Linked DNA regions of Homo sapiens: all the other regions are linked to region 3. The links come from fine-mapping of genetic effects on gene expression. A gene starts in region 3. Each other region holds a variant in brackets. All regions are shown on one strand. Distances are from middle to middle. Region 1 overlaps LINC02732 (long intergenic non-protein coding RNA 2732). Region 2 overlaps LINC02732 (long intergenic non-protein coding RNA 2732). Region 3 holds the start of FDX1 (ferredoxin 1).

The links. PIP is the estimated chance that this variant, and not a neighbour inherited with it, causes the effect.
Region 1: its variant is fine-mapped to the expression of FDX1 in lung (TOPMed, PIP 0.91).
Region 2: its variant is fine-mapped to the expression of FDX1 in whole blood (INTERVAL, PIP 0.93).

What each region holds. Positions count from the first base shown.
Region 1 is chr11:110,367,787-110,370,549 of GRCh38, forward strand. The region is part of intron 2 of LINC02732 (long intergenic non-protein coding RNA 2732); the gene reads left to right. Among named protein-coding and RNA genes, the nearest start is that of LINC02732, 14 kb to the left of the region's middle. The variant C/T (reference allele first, on the strand shown) is at 1,309.
Region 2 is chr11:110,397,431-110,400,193 of GRCh38, forward strand. The region is part of intron 3 of LINC02732 (long intergenic non-protein coding RNA 2732); the gene reads left to right. Among named protein-coding and RNA genes, the nearest start is that of FDX1, 31 kb to the right of the region's middle. The variant G/T (reference allele first, on the strand shown) is at 1,450.
Region 3 is chr11:110,428,532-110,431,294 of GRCh38, forward strand. It overlaps FDX1 (ferredoxin 1), which reads left to right and starts at 1,417. Exons shown (of 4, transcript NM_004109.5): 1 at 1,417-1,774. The coding sequence starts at 1,590. RefSeq lists a silencer at 1,231-1,880 and an enhancer at 1,951-2,230.

The DNA of each region.
Region 1 (2,763 bases), 61 kb before region 3:
ATACTGAAAAGATATTTTAAGATTATGTTTGATATATGAAGCTATTAAGGGGGCTAATTTTGTGTTTTTAAAAATTTTTCGTCTTTTAACAGGTTGCTTTTATCCTTCGTTTGAAAAATTATTCATTTGAATCAATAATTACTATATTATTCATGAATAATATTAATAGTGAATATTCATGTATTTATTATATAAGTAATATATTCACTAGCATAAAATTTTTAAGTGACAAAATTATATACAGTGAAGAGTAGGTCCCTGTATTACTTCATTTGTGTTGCTATACAAGAATACCTAAGGCTGGGTAATTTATAAAGAACAGAGGTTTATTTGGTTCATGGTTCTCAGGCTGTACATGAAGCATAGTGCTGGCATCTGCTTCTCGTGAGGCCTCAGGAAGCTTCCACTCATGAAAGAAGGCAAAGAGGGAGCTGGTATGTTACATGGCAAGAGAGAGAGCAGGAGAGAGAGATAGAGAGAGGAGGTGCCAATCTCCTTTAAACAACCAGCTCTCATGTGAATGAACAGAGCGTGAACGGAGCAAGAACTTCCTCATTACCATGAGGATGGCAAGGGGGATCTGCCCCCATGACCCAAACACCTCCCACCAGGTCCCACCTCCAACAGTGGGGAGTTCTCTCTCTCTCTCTCTGTCTCTGTCTCTCTCTCTCTCTCTTTCTTTCTTTCAACAGAGTCTCACTCTGTTGCCCAGGCTGAGTGCAGTGGCGTGATCTGGGCTCACTGCAACCTCAGCTTCCTGGGTTCAAGTGATTCTCCTGCCTCAGTCTCCCTAGTAGCTGGGATTACAGGCACCCGTAGTTCGCCTAGCTGATTTTTGTATTTTTAGTAGAAACAGAGTTTTACCATGTTGGTCAGGCTGGTCTCAAACTCCTGACCTTGTGATCCGCCCGCCTCGGCCTCCCAAAGTGCTGGGATTACAAACGTGAGCCACCGTGCCCGGCCCTGGGGAGCATATTCAACATGAGGTTTGGAGAGGGCAAACATCCAAACTACATCAATTCCCTATCTATCTCTGCCCTCTTAACCATAATTCCCCTCCACAAAGTCGATTGCTACAGGCAGTTTCTTGTGTATTTTTTCAGATAGTCTGTATATACATAAGACTCAATGTTTGTGAATGTGTATGTGTATATTGATACATGCATTAAAATACTCACAGGTGGTAGTATATGGACCCATTAGTCTCCACTTTGTTTCTGTTTGTGTATTTTGTCTTGTTTTATTTTCAGTATCCAGAGATCACGTCAGCATATATTGGGGATGGCTTTAAAACAAATGCGGGCTGGG[C/T]GCGGTGGCTTATGTCTGTAATCCCAGCACTTTGGGAGGCCAAGGCAGGTGGATCACTTGAGGTCAGGAGTTTGAGACCACCCTGACCTACATGGTGAAACCCCTTCTCTACTAAAAATACAAAAACTAGCTGGGCATGGTGGCTTGCGCCTGTAGTCCCAGCTACTTGGGAGGCTAAGGCAGGAGAATGGCTTGAACCCAGGAGGCAGAGGTTGCAGTGAGCCGAGATTGTGCCATTGCACTCCAGCCTGGGCAACAGAGCAATGCCTTGTCTCAAAAAAAAAAAAAAAAAATTAAAATAGGCTGGGTACGGTGGCTCACACCTGTAATTCCAGCACTTTCGGAGGCTGAGGCGGGTGGATGAATTGAGGTCAGGAGTTCGAGACCAGCCTGACCAACATGGTGAAACCCTGTCTCTACTAAAAATACAAATATTACCCAGGTGTGGTGGCACGTGCCTATAATCCCAGCTACTCGGGAGGCTGAGGCAGGAGATTTGCTTGAATTCTGGAGGCGGAGGTTGCAGTGAGCTGAGATCACATCTCTGCACTGGGCGACAGAGTGAGACTCCATCTCAAAAACACCCCACAAAAACTGTATTTCATTCAAACATAATCTGTTTTAGAGTCTCCAATTCATAGATATTTAAGTCATCTCTGTTTTTGCTATTTCTTATTCAATGATGGAAATCTTTGTACATAAATTGTTGTACATAAATCTTTGTACATAAATCTTTGCATATGTGTCAAAAATATGTATAGAGTATGATCCTAGGAAGGAAATTGTTGAAGCCTTTGATTTCTTATCCAACTCTAACCCTTCCTATTTCCCTCTCTTCATTTTTCCAATACAGTTATATAAATTGCTTACTTGTCCAGGCGCAGTGGCTCATGCCTGTAATCCCAGCACTTTGGGAGGCCGAGGTGGGCGGATCACGAGGTCAGGAGATCAAGACCATCCTGGCTAACGTGGTGAAACCCTGTCTCTACTAAAAATACAAAAATTAGCTGGGCATGGTGGCATGCACCTGTAGTCCCAGCCACCCAGGGGACTGAGGCAGGAGAATTGCTTGAACCCAGGAGGCGGAGGTTGCAGTGAGCCGAGATTGTGCCACTGCACTCCAGCCTGGGCAACAGAGTGAGACTCCATCTCAAAAAAAAAAAAAAAAACAACTTAGTTAAGCCAAAAGTCAGTGTTTACATTTTTGTCACTATTAAATATTATTCACCACTGAACCAAATAGGATCTTGTCATCATATCTTCTTTCTTGTATAACCTTCTGCTTTTTCTGACATTAGTAATTGCTAATCCCCTTCATCACTGGCCAAATTGCTTAGTTTTCTACATACAATTACTATTTTTTTCTGTTCAAAGGATACTGGAGATTTGGCAAACTTTTGGTAATCCTTTTCCTCCAAATTCCCAAACACATTAAATAATTATTAAAGGTTGGGC
Region 2 (2,763 bases), 31 kb before region 3:
CCTGGTCAGTTCTTACAATTTAAAACTTGGTGGGCAGATGAAGCTTCCATTCAGGCTGCTTGCAATGCCCAGGCCCAACATCAAATTAATGTAACTGTAGACCAACTTTTGGGGGTTGGCGGCTGGGCTGGTTTAGATGCGCAACTGGTCATGCAGGATGATGCCATAGAACAGCTTAGAGGAGTGTGCATTAGAGCTTGGGAAAAAATCACTATAGGTGGAGAACATTACCCTTCCTTTAGTGCTATAAAACGGACCAAGAGAACCATATGTTGATTTTATAGCTCAGTTACAGGAGTCTCTTAAAAAGATGATTGCAGATTCGGCTGCTCAGGTTATAGTGTTGCAGTTATTAGCTTTTGACAATGCTAATGCCGATTGCCAGGCTGCTCTGCAACCTGTCAGAGGGAAAGCACATTTAGTTGATTACATCAAGGCCTGTGATGGTATCAGAGGTAATCTGCATAAAGCTACTTTGTTGGCACAGGAAATGGCAGGACTGAGAGTGGATAAAGGAAATACTCCATTTCCTGGAGCTTGTTTTAACTATGGGAAGCATGGTCATACTAAAAAAGAATGTAGAAAAAAATCAGTGAGTCAGGCAGCCAGATGGGGAAAAAGGAAAACTGCTGATCCTGAAATATGTCCAAAATGTAAAAAAGGGAAATATTGGGCTAATCAGTGTCACTCTAAGTTTGACAAAGATGGGACCCTGATTTCGGGAAATGCCATGAGGGGTCCGTCCTGGGCCCTGTTCTAAACCGGGGCATTTCCGGCTCAGGCCATTCCCTTACCCCTGTACAATGTCTGTCCCCTGCCACAGCCGGTAGTGCCACAGTAGATTTATGCTGCACAAAAGCTGTGAGCCTTCTACCTGGGGAACCCCTGCAAAAGGTCCCAACAGGAGTCTGTGGACACTTGCCAGCGGGGACAATAGGATTACTTTTAGGAAGGTCTAGTTTAGGTTTAAAAGGGGTACAAATACATACAGGAGTCATTGATTCAGATTACAATGGGGAAATTCAAATTATTATATCTACTTCTGTTCCCTGGAAAGCAGAGCCAGGAGAGTGCATAGCACAGCTCCTGATTGTGCCATATATGAGAATGGGAAAAAATGAAACTAAATGAACAGGAGGATTTGGAAGCACAAATAAACAAGGCAAAGCAGCTTATTGGGTAAATCAAATTACTGATAAATGTCCTACCTGTGAAATAACTATTCAAGGAAAGAAATTTAAAGGTTTGACAGATACAGGAGCAGACATGTCAATCATTTCTCTACAGCACTGGCCGTCCGCGTGGCCAATTCAACCTGCTCAATTTAACATATTTGGAGTTGATAAAGCTGCTGAAGTATATTAAAGTAGTTATATTTTGCATTGTGAAGGGCCCAATGGACAATCTGGGACTATTCAACCAATTATAACTTCTGTACCTATAAATTTT[G/T]GGGGAATAAATTTATTACAACAATGGGGAGCACAAGTTCTAATTCCAGAACAATTATATAGCCCTCAAAGTCAACATATGATGCATGAAATGGGGCATGTCCCTGGTATGGGACTAGAAAAAAATTTGCAAGTTTTGAAAAAACCACTTCAAATGGAAAGACCAAGTTCCTGCCAAAGATTAGGAAATAATTTTTGATGGCAGCCATTGTTAAGCCTCCAGAACCTATACTTTTAAAATGGTTAGCCAATAAGCCAATTTGGTTAGAACAATGGCCGCTAAGTAAAGAGAAACTGGAGGCTTTAGAGACATTTGTTAATGAACAATTAGAAAATGGGCACATAATTCCAACATTTTCTCCTTGGAATTCTCCAGTTTTCATAATTAAGAAAAAATCAGGTAAATGGAGAATGCTAACTGACTTAAGAGCCATCAATTCAGTTATACAACCTATGGGAGCATTACAGCCAGGATTGCCTTCTTCTGGTATAATTCCAAAAAATTGGTCTTTAATAGTCATAGATTTAAAAGACTGTTTCTTTACTATCCCTTTAGCTGAGCAAGACTGTGAATGGTTTACATTTACAATTCCTGCAGTAAACAACCTGCAGCCTGCTAAGCATTTTCATCGTTTCACAGATGTGTCTAGTAATGGTAAAGCTTCTTATTCTGGATCAAAAGGTAAAGTTTTCCAGACGCCCGATACTTCAGCTCAAAAAGCAGAGCTTGTGGTGGTAATTAAGATATTGACTGCTTTTGATATGCCTATTAATGTGATTTCTCATTCTTCATACGTGGTTTATTCCACACAGTTAATTGAAAATGCTTAGTTATGATTTCATACAGATGAACAACTAATGACTTTATTTACCCAATTGCAAACAGCGGTTAGAAGTAGAATGCACCCTTCCCCTTCAAGCTGTAGGGGGATAGATGTTCCGTCTGAACATCAGAAGGAACAAACTCCAGACACACCATCTTTAAGAACTGTAACACTCACCACGAGGGTCCAAGGCTTCATTCTTGAAGTCAGCAAGACCAAGAACCCACCAGAAGGAACCAATTCCAGACACATTTTGGCAACCATGAAGGGACTATCGCCAAGCAGTAAGCAGCATTGGGCCTCTTTCACTTGCTATTCTGTCCTATTTTTCCTTAGAATTTGGGGGCTAAATACCAGGCACCTGTCAGCCAGTTAAAAGCGACTAGCGTGGTTGCCGGACTAAAGACATGGGTGTCAGGCTTTCTGGGAAAGGGCTCTCTAACAATCCCCAATGCTTCAGAGTTGGGAGCATTGGTTTGCCTGGAACCAGC
Region 3 (2,763 bases):
ACTGTATTTGCTACAGGAGGGCTGAGAGAAGACAGAACATCTACGATTTTTTTTCTTTTCAATTCTCTTCCTACAACTAATTCATCCGACCTTGGAAGTTTGGTCTTACTAAAAACAAAAGTTAGCTGTTCTTTTACAACCTCCTCTTCAAGATTACTTGTCAGGGTTTGCTGTGCCCTTCGCAGCTTGAAAGACTTTCTCTTCATCCAACGATTTGAGGCAATTAGGAGCCACTGCCTTCTCTCTGCCATTGGGTTCCAGAAAGCACCATACATTGTCCGCAGATACTTTACTCATGCTTACACTTTCTTGTTCTGAATCTTCAAAAATTAGTGGCGTGTGGTGGCACACGCCTGTAGTCCTAGCTACTCGGGAGGCTGAGGCAGGAGAATCACTTGAACCTGGGAGGCGGAGGTTGCAGTGAGCCGAGATTTCGCCACTGCACTACAGCCTGGGCAGAATAGAGAGACCCCATGTCAAAAAAAGAAAAAAAAAGTATCTGATTGTGTTTAGCATATCTGCAATATCCCCTTGACTTTGGCCTTTAGCCTCTTTATGAGTACCCTGATGGAGGAAGGCCCAGGAAGCGGTAGCCTTCCTGGTTTGTGACGCACGGTGTGCATTGCGTATTAGATTAACATCAGAATGGCCCTGAAGGCTGGAACATCTTATCTGTGTTTGAGAGTTATGGAAACTCTGATCCTCCATGAGAATAATTTTTCCAAGGTCTCAGATCTCTAAAGCAGTAGATCTTGGATCTGAACATTGCTATTTCTGACCTTAAAGCCCATGCATTTCCCACAACATATGAACCATGATAAGGTGTATTTTAAAGTTCATCTTTTCTGTTTTTTGTGAAAGTCTTTTAGAGATCTCAGCTCATCACAAAGTTTCCGGTTCAGTCTCGTGGGTTTCATGTACTCAGCCAGCATTTACTTGCCAGTCAAGGTCTAGGATGGCTACCTGTCCTCTGCAGGAGCCCCAAGCCTATTCATTAATTTCATTTACAATTTTATAGTCATAATTATTTCTTTGTATAATAGCATTCTGAGATTTTCCAAAATTTCCCACTGTTTTTGTTTTACAGTGGGCAGAATTCACTTTGCTCTAACTTGACTCCAAGATGACACAATTTCCCAGTTTTTTTTTTAACGGCTAGGGGATGGGGGTATGCGGAACAGAACACAGTGGTCTAGCTAACCGATTTCCGCTAGACGTCCAGCTATCTTTCAAAATATTTTGTTTCTGCACGGCAACTTCAGCCGCTAAAAAAGCATCCAGCTTACAACGGAACCTGGAGGGTTGGTAAAGGCCCCCTGCGCTGGCCCCGCCCCATGGGACCGGGCGGCGTGGGCGTGAGAGGCGGGGCGGGGCCGCGCTCTGCTTGCCAATGTCTTTATAGGTCACCCGGAAGGCACGCGGAACCTCGGCGCGGTGCTTCCAGCAGGGTCTCTCCGCCACTCCAGCCCCGCGCCCCTCGCCGCGGCCCTCGGGCGTCTGCGCCGCAGCTGCCGCCCCCGCCTCTTTGGAGTCTCTCGCGGCCTCAAAGCGCGGCCTGCGTCGCTTCCGGCAGTTCCCGACCGCGGGCGATGGCTGCCGCTGGGGGCGCCCGGCTGCTGCGCGCCGCTTCTGCTGTCCTCGGCGGCCCGGCCGGCCGGTGGCTGCACCACGCTGGGTCCCGCGCTGGATCCAGCGGCCTGCTGAGGAACCGGGGGCCGGGCGGGAGCGCGGAGGCGAGCCGGTCGCTGAGCGTGTCGGCGCGGGCCCGGAGCAGGTAGGGCGCCGTGCGGGCGCGATCGCCGGCGCGGGCCGGGGTCCCCGGTGGGTGGCGCCTGGCTCTCTGGGCCGAGTCTCTGGTTCCAGTGCCTTCTGCGCGCCGGGCCCACACCCCGGAGGCCTGCCTCTCGCCCCCCTCTTCTGGGGTGCTCTCGCGGCTCCGTCTCGCTGCTCGGTGGCGTCGCTGCCTCCCTTCCGTCGCACCGCAGAGTTCCTTTCCGCATCACCCACTCCCGGCGGGAATCGGGGACCCTGGACGCCCAGCTCCCTTTCCCAGCGCTTCCCGTGCCCTGAGGAAAGCCGGGACTTTGCTGCTGCTTGTTCTCCGTGTGATTTGTCTGGGATCTGACCTTTGCTCTGCCCGAAACTGGCAGTGACCTTCGCGACAGGCTTCCCTCCTGCTGTCCTGGCCTGACACACCTGCCAGCTGTTTTTTTCAGGGCCTTGCCCTGCTTTGAGAGGACACCCAGGTCCCAGGTCTTTGTCAGGGGGTGTCCAGGTAGAATACACCCAGCCCATACCCTCTGCTGCCCTGTAGGCCCTTTGCTAGTTGCTCAAGTGTTGAAAGCCCCTGCGTTGAAGTAATCTGCCGGGACTTGAAACTTGGCTTTGGCACTGATTGTCTGACGTGCCTAACTTGGTCAGTCCTTAGGAACCCAGTTTCTCCATTTGCAAGTTGGATATAATAACAGTGTAGACCTCCTATGGTTAATTGAAGAATCAATGAGTTAATACAGCGATACAGGTAGTCTTGTGCCTAGCACGTAATGAGGGCTCAGTAGATGCCACTTGGTAGCAGCAGCAGCAGCAGCAGCAGCAGCAGCAGCAGCTTCTTAGGTTCACAATGTTAAGAGAGTTTTGTATTAAATATTGAAAGAAATGTGACAATTTATCCCAAATGTGTTGAAGTTTTAGGTTCTTGGGCATATTTGTTTTTCAAAGACACTCCTTAGATATACTAGAGATACAATTTACACATAATTTTTA